Linked DNA regions of Homo sapiens: region 2 is linked to region 1. Evidence: fine-mapped expression QTL. A gene starts in region 1. The other region holds a variant in brackets. All regions are shown on one strand. Distances are from middle to middle. Region 1 holds the start of C10orf88 (chromosome 10 open reading frame 88). Region 2 overlaps C10orf88 (chromosome 10 open reading frame 88).

Region 1 (5,387 bases):
ACCATCAGATCTCCCAAGACTTATTCACTACCACGAGAACAGTATGGGGGAAACTGCCCCCACCATTCAGTTATCTCCCACGGGGTCCCTCCCACAACAAGTGGGAATTATGGGAGCCACAATTCAAGATGACATTTGGGTGGGGACACAGCCAACCATATCACCAACTATATTTTCTGATTTACTTCAAAGAGAAAAGTAAAGCAAAAAACTCACTTGTAATTCATGACAAGAATAATGTATCATATTAAGATTGAAGTCAGCTTTGAACCATAACCATCCTGGCTTTGGAAAAAAGCTTAAGATTGAATGTACTAATTTTCCTTTTTCTGCTGCTCTTAGTTTATGTGATAAAAGCTGTCACCAACCTATCAATTCCATACAACAAACCTGTACTCAACATAATGTCTATCTCAGCAAGCATGCAGATAGTAGGGAACACAGATATATAAACAGGCAAAGTCTGACATCAAAGGAGAATTATACTACCTAAAAAAGTGGTAATTGTAGCACAGAGGAATTTGTTTAATTCTGTAGCAGGATGAAGTAAGCTTGGTTTCGCATGATAAATAGGATTTTTCCTACTATTGAAAAAAATGGCATTCTAGGTAGAGGAAACTGGAAGGTAGGCAGGGTTCAAAGTACAAAGGACTCTGCATGCTATGCTAAGGAGTGAAGGTGTTGATTCAGTCAGGAACATTGATCACCAGAAGGAGAAGAGGGCAGTGCAAAGACTGAAATGGAAGGAATCAAAATGAAAGCTACTGACAAACTCCTGGAATTGTTCAGATAAAGCTAGTGCTTGGAAACAGAAGAAGCAGAGATAGGAAAATTTTTCTTTAAGAAAATGAAGACTTGGTGGTTTATTGGCTGTATGGAAATAAAGGAAAGGATAGACCATAGGAATCTTTTGTTTTCTGATTCCTGGACATTCAGCTTTATTTAAGGAAGTCAAAATCCAGTTTATAATATTGCTATTGCTCATGAAATTGCAGATTAGTTTCTGAAGAGCCTATTTTCCTTCGGATTGTCCACATGTATTAATGTGGATCAAAGTTAACTTACAACCACAGGAAGCAGGACATACAGGACAAAAATAATGACAAGGACAACTTAGAATGAGTCTGAAATATTAAAAAAATCTTTGCAAACGAGGACTTTACAATTCTGCTATGATAGACCTTTGGTGACATTTCTCTCTTTCAATCTTGGTGAATTCACCTACCATACGTACATTCTGGTGATTACTTATAGAAAAATACATTTGGTCATCATTTTTCTTGCTTTGACACAGGTAAACAGAATGCAAAGTTTATTCTCATTTTTAGCTAGAGGGCACAAGTCCTAGTACATAAACTCAAACGAAAACATAAGCAAAAAGATTAAAGTAATGCGCACTGAGTCATGAACCCAGAATAGACAGCTCTGAAAGAAAATTAGAGTATGGGTGAGCAAAAACGTTATTTCCTAGAGAGGATACCACCTTAAACACAACTTTGGAACTCTAGATTATAGACAAGTGGAATTTCAGAGTTTGCTTTTTTCAAAAGACAGAAAAATAATCTGCACAAGCCTCTACAGGAGGAGGATGAGGGGGCACACTATATACAGTCCCATCCCGTGGGGCATCTAGAAAGTTCCATCTGCTCCCACTGTTCTGCATCCGTAGCCTTAAGTTCCTTCAAGACTGAGTTCATATTCTACTTCAACAGAGTTCTGAGACCCCCCCTTTCCACTCGCTGTTTCCAGTGCCATGAGGAGCGATCTCATGGGGCAGCCCCTGCCTTCGGTGTCTGGGTCTTTCTTGCATTTCAAATTTCTGTCACCTAGAGCGTCCAGCCCTGGATGCCCGGGTTCCTGCGGCCTGAGGGTTGCACATGGGGTCAGGGGGCGTCAGCTGAGACAGCACCCGGCGAAGGCCAGCGTGGCTCAATGCCCATCACAGATGCCCTTCAACCCCAAAACCCCATCATCCGCTTCAGCCCCCCTCTAAAGCGAGAATATGTGTGAGGGAGGCTAGGAGAATTCGAAGTAAAAATAACCCGAATCGGCAGCGCGTCCGCCGCGCTAGCTGCCACAAATGCTGCAGATCCGACGGAATGGAAGCAGAAAAGGCCCTGGCGTCCCCTTGGGAAAGAACGAGGTCAGGAGTCGGTCTTGCACGCAGCGTAGAGCGACGAGACTACACCTACCTGATCACAGACGTTCCACACCAGCTCAGCAACGGTCGTCCACGCCGCTTGCTGTTTCCCCACAGCCAACGTCGAAAACACCCTCGTGCCGGCGCGCAGTGCACCGCGCCTGCGCATAGTCTCCAGCGAAAGAGCAAGGGTCTGCCAGTGCGCATGCTCCGCTCTCGACCTCCTCCCCGCACACTTTGAACGCCGCGCCTGAGGCCAGCTGGCACATGCGCATGCGTGTCTCTGGTGCCTGCTCTCCCCACCAAAGCAAGAAGCGGCGGGTACTTGAAGCGGAGTGAGCCGGAAGTCGCTTTGCCTGCCCATTTCCACGCTGTACCGGCGGAAATTCAAGCACTGGAAGAGAGGTTCCGGGGCTGGGCTGGCCTGACTGAAGGCGGCGGAATGGAGACGCGGACCGAGGACGGGGGCCTCACCCGCCGCCCCACGCTGGCCTCTTCTTGGGATGTTGCAGGCGGGGCCCTGACCCACAGCCTCCTCCTCACCCGGGCCGGTCTCGGCCCCGGTGACTTCGACTGGGAGGAGCTGCTGGCACCGCCTGCTCCAGGGTGCGCCGGGCCGACGGGGACGGGGTCGCTATGCTCGGCAACTGCCGCGCTTCTAGGGGAGCTGTGAGGGGAGGCGAGAGGGTCTGAGCCCGGGATCCGGGAGAGCAGTTGGTACCAGGTCTCTAGTTGGGGAGGGGAGCTGCGAGGTCGTCCGGGGTGGGCGGAGGGGGGTGGGTCCGGCCGGGAAGGGGCCGAGGCTCCTGGGCGTGAGAGGGGGAAGGTGACCCGGACTCGGAATTTCATATAACGTCCCCATCAGGCGTGATAGCCCCTCAGGGCTGCTGTCAAAGTCAGTCCGCCCCTCTACCCTCAAACAAGACACCTCCTGTCCACCAAAACAGGCTGTGTAAAAAGTCCAGCTATAGATGATCGCTGTCGACTTAATTTCGAAAAAGATACACTTTTGTCTTTCATTGTGCCCTGCACCCAGTAGGTGCCCAGTGATTTATGTAATTATCCGAGAGTCAATTGCAGGGGATTGAGTAGAATGTTGATTGAGGAAAAAATAGAGTTTGGGAAAGCCCTGATGTGTGACACCTTCATTTCCGTATGAATTCTGTGTTGAGCGCTTCTTGGATGCTTGGGAAGGTGCTTGGACCTCAAGGGCAAGTGGAAGTGAGTTAGAAGAAAGAAGCCCCGGCCGGGCACGGTGGCTCACACCTGTAATCCCAGCACTTTGGGAGGCCGAGGCGGGCGGATCACGACGTCAGGAGATCAAGACCATCCTGGCTAACACGGCGAAACCCCGTCTCTACGAAAAATACAAAAAATTAGCCGGGCGCGGTGGCGGGTGCCTGTAGTCCCAGCTGCTTGGGAGGCTGAGGCAGGAGAATGGCGTGAACCCGGAAGGCGGAGCGTGCAGTGAGCCGAGATGGAGCCACTGCATTCCAGCCTGGGCGACAGAGCCAGACTCCGTCTCAAAAAAGAAGAGTCATGTTCAGAGAACTATACTGTGTGATGTTTTCACCAATTTTCTTCTCAGTCAGGATCTGGTGATTTTGAAGAGAAACCACAACAACAAAGATGAAAACCCCTGCTTCCTTTACCTGAGGTGTGGCCCTGATGGAGGTGAAGAAATCGCTTCTATTGGCATTTTAAGTTCAGCAAGAAATATGGAAGTGTACTTAGGAGAGGAGTACTGTGGAACCAGTAGGGGCAAGAATGTTTGTACTGTCCTGGATGACAGGTGTGTGACTTGTACACGGGAAAGTGTTCTTCTGAAGTAGTGTTTTGATTTTTCTCACTTTTTGCAATAATTATTGATTCTCTGATATTGATACCATATGTTATGGGAGAGAAGATAAAAATGTGCCAGTAGGCATAGAAGTTTACAACTTTAGAGATCTTAAAAGACAGTGTAGATCAGCCTAGTTATTTTTATAAATGTTGAAATTTAGAACTAACAATCAAGGTGAATTGGTAGGAGGTCATAGCTAGTTAGTGGAAGAGTTTTATTAGAATGAAATTTTGAGAAGTGTGTCTCTTTCCTTAAACTCACAGCAGTCTGTCTTCCGAAAGTTAATTTGGTAGTCAGTCTGGAACTTTGAATACATTTTCTTCTTGGAAGCCTATTAGAAATGGTGGAGGGATCTAAGACTGTGCTACATAAACCTATTTATTAACCTGTAACGCAACTTGTGATTTTTTTTCTTACGAAGATTTTTCTCCAATCTGTCTTTAACACAAAATATGAACTGTTTTATATCCTGCATGTTGGAAACAATTGCTGTGTTTATTGAGCTTTAAAATACAGTCTGGCTACATGGTTGTACATATGTTATATAATGTAATTTTCTCATTGAGCCTAGTAAGTGGTAGATGTAATCATAGGCAGTGTGCTTCAGTTATGGAGCCCAACTCTTCATGCCTCACCAGGAAAACTGAATCTTAGGATTTCAATATTGTTCTGGAAACATTTATTTTTAAGTGTAACTATTAAAAGTGACAATATATGTAAGTAAAAAAAATTAATTCTTTTTTATTTTTAGTGAACATGAAAAGATCATTTTGTATAAAAAAAATCTAAAATTGGAGTCCTCCACACATGCTTGTAAAATAAAGGTAAGTTGTCAGTTGTAAACTAATTTGACAACTAAGTTGTTTTTGTACTCTGTGTATGCTTGTTTTCTTTTGGATTAGTAATACAATTAGTCCAACTTGCTTGCTTGCTTTTTTTTTTCTTTTCAAGACAGTATCTTGCTCTGTTGCCCAGGCTGGAGTGCAGTGGGACAATCATGGCTCACTGCAACGTCATCTCCCAGCTCAAGCTAACTTCCTACCTCAGCCTCCCAAGTAGCTGGGACTACAGGCATACACCACCATGCCTGGCAAATTTTTTAAATTTTTAGTAGAGATGAGGCTCAGAAATACTTAGTAAACATGTACAAAGAAATTACTTTTCTAAAAAATTATCAGCCCTTTTTAACATTGAATTAAGAAATTTTTTTTTTTTTAAATTTTTCACCCGGTGACCAGTGAGTAGACTTTTTCTCTTAAAATTTAACCATGAGCCACGTGCAGTGGTACATGTTTATAATCCCAGTTACTCAGGAGGCTGAGGTGGGAGGATTGCTCAAGCCCAGGAGTTCAAGACCAACCTGGGCAACAGAGTGAAACCCCATCTCACTAAAAAAATAATAAA
Region 2 (5,387 bases), 20 kb after region 1:
AAGCCAAAAGCCAGTTCTTTGAAAATTTCAATAAAATTGATACACTTCAAACAAGACTATCAAAAGATAAAAAGAAGATGCAATCATCAGTATCCGGAATGTAATGAGATGTCACTACTGATCCTAAGGCCGTTAAAAGATAACAAGGGAGGGAATATTACAAACAAATTTATGCTCATAAATTTGACAACTTAGGAGAAATGGATTAATTTCCCCAAAACCACAAACTACCAACCAAACTCAGCCAACATGAAATAAGTAATAAAATAGTCCTATAACCACTAAAAATATTTGATTAATGATTGGAAAGCTCATGAAAAAGAAATATCCAGGCCCAGATGGCTACACTGAAGGTTTCCACTGAACATTTAAAGAACATCAATTTTACATGCTTTTAAAAACTAGAAGAGGAGGGAAGATGTTCCAACTCATTCTGTGAAGTCAGTATTAGCCTGACACCAAACTAGATTGCCCCCCAAAATTAAAATACACAAAAATGCATGTAAATATATGTAAAATATGTAAATCTATAAAAAATACTTATAAAATATATGAAAAAATTTATAAACCTAACAAAATATATAAGGATATGTGAAATGAAAATTATAAAATACTGACAAAGGAAAAGAAAAGCCCTAAAAACTGGAGAGACATACCATATTCATGGATTTGAAGACACAGCATAGTAAAAACGTCAATTCTCTCCTAGTTGATATATAAATTTAATGTAATTCCTATGAAAAATCGAGCATGATTTTTTATAAATATGAATGAGATGATTCTAAAATTTAGAAATGGAGAATTTTTTAAAATGGAAAAATAAAGGAACTATAAAAAATTTTGAAAAAGTGTAAGAGAAATCACTACTTGATTTCAAGACATAGCCACAGTATTCAAGACTGTGTTATTGTCAGAGGCATAGACTTATAGATGGATAGCACAGAAATAACTCTGCACAAGTACACCAACTGACGTTTGACAATGCAAAAATAATTCAATACAGGTAGAATTGTCTTTTTAACCTGTGCTGGAACAGTTGGATATCCACAGGCAAAAAATGAATTGTGACTTAAATCTTATACTTTATGCAAAAATTAACACAAAATTACTTATAGATTAAAATGTAAAATATAAAACTATAAAGCTTTTCTACAGGAGAAACTCTAGGGACCTAGGACTAGGAAATGAGTTCTCAGATATGACATCAAAAGCGTGATCCATAAAATAAAAAACTGATTTATTGGGCCCCATCAAAATGTAAAACTTTTGTTTATGAAAGACACTGTTAGGGGAATTAAAATACAGACTGGGAGAAATTCTTTGCAAATTACAAATCCAGCAAATGACCTGTCTCTGAAGTACATAAAGAACTCTCAAAACTCTATGTTAAAAGCAAATAAAAATAAAACCTAACAATCCAATTTAAACCATGGGCAAAAGAATAGTCATTTCAACAGACAGGATATACAAATAGCAAATAAGCACAAGGAAAGTTGATCAACATTGACTTAGTGACTATTAGGGAAATGCATATTAAAACCACAATATATCACTACATATTTGGATGGCTAAAATTTAAAAATGGTAACAATACCAAATGCTGACAAAGATGTTTGGGAACTGGATCTCTCATACATTGTTGGTAGGAATATAAAATGGTACAGTCACTCTAAAAAATATTTTGGCAATATCTTAAAAACTAAACATACAGTTACCGTACAACCCAGCAATTATACTCCTGGACATCCCAGAGAAATGAAAGCTCAGGTCCACACAGAAACTTGTACACAGTTATTAATAAAAGCTTTCTTTGTAATATCCCAGAAGTCCCAACTAAAATGTCTTAGCAATAGGTGAATGGTTAAACTATGGTACCTCCATATCACGCAGTGCTGATGAGCAGTAAAAAACAACTTGGACATCTCTCAAAGGCATTTTGCTGAGTGACAAAAGAGAATCTCAAAAGGTCACATACTGTATGATCTCACTTTATAATATTTTCAAAATAATAAAACTGTAGAGATGAACAACATATTGATGGTTACCAGGTATTAGGGAAAGAAGACTTTAGGGGAGTAGGTATGACAATAGAGGGGTAGCAGGGAGGAGATCATTGCAGTTAAAGAATGGTTCTGCCTTTTGATTATGGTGGTGTTTAAATAAATATGTGTACATATGATAAAATGGCATAGAACTATACACACACATCATATTAATATCAATTTCCTGGTTTTGATATTGGATTATAGGTAGATAAGATGTGACCATTGGGAGGATTGGATAAAGGGCACTGAGAAACTAATATCTTTGCAACTTCCTGTGAATCCATAATTATTTCAAAATA[C/A]AGAGTTTCTTAAAAACTGTCTTTGGTGTATTCTAGAGTAGTGGCTCTCAGACTTTTGGTCTTTACACTCTTAATTGAGGACTCCAATAAACTTATGTAGGCTACATAAAAATATTTGTTTAAAAATAACAATAAACCCACTGTATATTAACATAAATAACAGTCTTTATGAAAAAAAGCCAGATTTTCTTTTAAAATTTTATTGAGAATAGTATTATTTTAAATGTACATGAATCTATACATAATAGCTTTTGGCTGCATTATCATGTATATTGAATTATAGCATGTATAGTGAAATATAGCTAGTAAGAGCACAGTAGGAATACTGAGAACAGAGTGGATTAATCTCTGAAAAAGCATATATTTATACACTAAATCTCTACTACCTTGAAATTTTAGGAAAGAAGAATACACAACTACAGATTCTGTTAGTCATCAGGGCAATAACATAGATTTTGTAGCCTCTGGAAAATTCATGAGTATGAGGATGAGAAAGTCGAATAACATCTTAGTATAAACATACTTCTGACCTCAGTGAATTCCCAAAAGAATCATGGAGACCCCAAGGTTCTGTGGACCACATTCTGAGAGTTACTGTTCTTGTTTTGAGACGGAGTCTTATCACCCAGGCTGGAGTGCAGTTGCGCAATCTCAGCTCACTGCAGCCTCTGTCTCCCGGGTTCAAGCAATCCTCCCAGGTAGCTGGGACTACAGGCGCCCACCACCATACCCAGCTAATTTTTGTACTTTTAGTAAGAGACAAGAGTTTCACCATGTTGGCCAGGCTGGTCTCGAACTCCTGACCTCAAGTGATCCACTCACCTCAGCCTCCCAAAGTGCTGGGATTACAGGCGTGAGCCACCGTGCCTGCCCTGAGACTTACTGTTCTAATGTTCATTGTGAACGTTAGAAATTGGTGTGCTTTTTATTTATTTTGTTAGTTTGCCCATTCTAGTTAAATTCTGAAGTGTTTTTATACCAGGTTAAAAAAAAGAACCTTCTAGTAGTTTAGTAAGGTTGTTTGTATGAAGGAAGAAAAACTTTATAGAGTTGGTTGGGGAAGTATTTGAAAATATGCATGTTGACTTTAGAAGAAAATTGGGCCAGATCAGTTTTGATTTGGACCTCAAAATCAAAAAGACCCTTTCTAAAGACTTGCTCTTTGAGGGTTCCTTTTCACTTTTACATTTCTGTTCAATTGTATACTAAAAAAGAATTAATAATGTGTTGGGCATTTAGGGCTGTGGTTGCCTATTGTGGATGTGTATTAGGACCTAGAAATGCATTGTAAGAAGACAGAGCACAGTTGTGGAGACAAATCTCAGCAATATATGTTGGCTGCTTGTTTTATAAGCTTGGTTGTTTTTGTTATTAGGGAAAATTTACACATTTTTAAAAATGTATTTTTAGAATGGAAGAGCAATCTATTTGCTCCTACTTGGAAAAGATTCTTTCTAAAAATATGGAACTGATGGAAAAGAAACTTATGGATTACATTGATCAGCGAATACATGAACTCCAGGAGCACATTGATGATAAGATTGCTTTGTTACTGGATTTGCTGCAAAATCCTAACTCCCCGCCCACTGGGATACCTCTAAGACATTATGACTCTGGAGAAAGACTTTCAAATGGAGAAAGATAAGCTCTCAACATAAACAGTGTACTGCAGATATTTATTACATATTTATTACAAAGCCAAAACCCAAAAATATTTATAAAAAGCAAGTATTTAATGTCCTTTGAGGGATCATTGTCTTACACAAAGTGACCTCAGTTTTCGTTTTTACTACACTTGTTATTTTAAATCCAGTACTGTACACTGAGTTAATATGATACAGTCAAATTATTTTTGCTCACGATATTTTTCAGTCTTACAGAAATGTATGTATATTTGTGTTAAGAGTTTAAAATGCTTGAGGATTTCTAATACAGTTCATTAGTTTGTATTGTATATGTGTTTAAGTATAATTTTTATTTATACAAAGATCTTATAGTCTTAGAAGTATGAAAAATAATGCTTAAGAGTATTTGATTTTTTTCTTTTTCTAATTATCTTGGAAAATTGGATACTTAAGACTTGGAGCCTTTACTTCAGATTACCAGTTTACATTTTGTATTGCTTGTGTGAGATAATGAATAAGATGTGATATTTGGCATGTGTAAACTTAGTTCACTCTGGGGTTGTTAATATTATTTGTTTCATTACAGAGTAGCTGTAGGTAGGAAAGTAAACATCAGAACTAGCCTAGTCCTTGTTACGATTAGTACTTTGGATTTGATTTTTCCTGTAAAACAGATGCAGTCATCTTGTTTGACCTCAGTAACCCCAGACAGTTTAAGAAAACCTCTCCTTTTGAGCTGATACAGGTTTTTTCCCCAGAATCCTTTTCTGGCATGTTTATTGTATGAAATAATGAGGCTCTCCATGGAAGGATGAACACATATGAGTCAAGGGATTGCAATTCTCTCTGATAGACTTAGTTTTCAGACCTTATAACTATTGTATATGCATTGAAGGGTGATATATTTGCATATAAAAATAAATGCACCTGCTCTGGGAACTACTTGTCTTTAGTTAGTAGAACTGTTTTATTTCAACTAATCTTTACTTCAAATGTCTTATTTTTTAGAAAAAGGGTATCTCATACTCATTTAATATTTTGGCAAATTTCTTCTTTAAAAATGTTACCTGATGTAATTCCTGCGTGACATAGCTGAATTTTTACCCTGCCCTAACTCTGCTTATCTTTAAGAAACAGGATGCCTGTGATGAAAAGTTCCTTTTGTAACCAGTCCAGAGGAGACTGGTTACAACCACGATAGCTGACCAAACGACTTTAAAAAGACCTCAGCCTTTTTATAATCTTATTTCTGTGCTAAATAACGCTCCTGCTAGCTCCATGACAGTTGACAATCGCCATGACAGTGACCAGAAGAAGCCATGAAAGGACAAAAAGGAAGGCAGCACTCTGGTTTTAGGAAGTTCACTGCCCATTTCTGAAAAATCCAGGAATATTCCTCCCTTTGCTTGAATGTGAAA

The links.
Region 2: its variant is fine-mapped to the expression of C10orf88 in blood mononuclear cells (TOPMed, PIP above 0.99). The same link has a PIP of 0.9 or more in whole blood.

What each region holds. Positions count from the first base shown.
Region 1 is chr10:122,951,374-122,956,760 of GRCh38, reverse strand. It overlaps C10orf88 (chromosome 10 open reading frame 88), which reads left to right and starts at 2,534. Exons shown (of 6, transcript NM_024942.4): 1 at 2,534-2,746; 2 at 3,729-3,932; 3 at 4,735-4,807. The coding sequence starts at 2,583. LOC124902519 (a long non-coding RNA gene) reads right to left here and starts at 2,319. Exons shown (of 2, transcript XR_007062325.1): 1 at 2,193-2,319. RefSeq lists a silencer at 2,739-2,818.
Region 2 is chr10:122,931,029-122,936,415 of GRCh38, reverse strand. It overlaps C10orf88 (chromosome 10 open reading frame 88), which reads left to right. Exons shown (of 6, transcript NM_024942.4): 6 at 3,755-5,387. The coding sequence ends at 3,989. Among named protein-coding and RNA genes, the nearest start is that of C10orf88, 21 kb to the left of the region's middle. The variant C/A (reference allele first, on the strand shown) is at 2,345.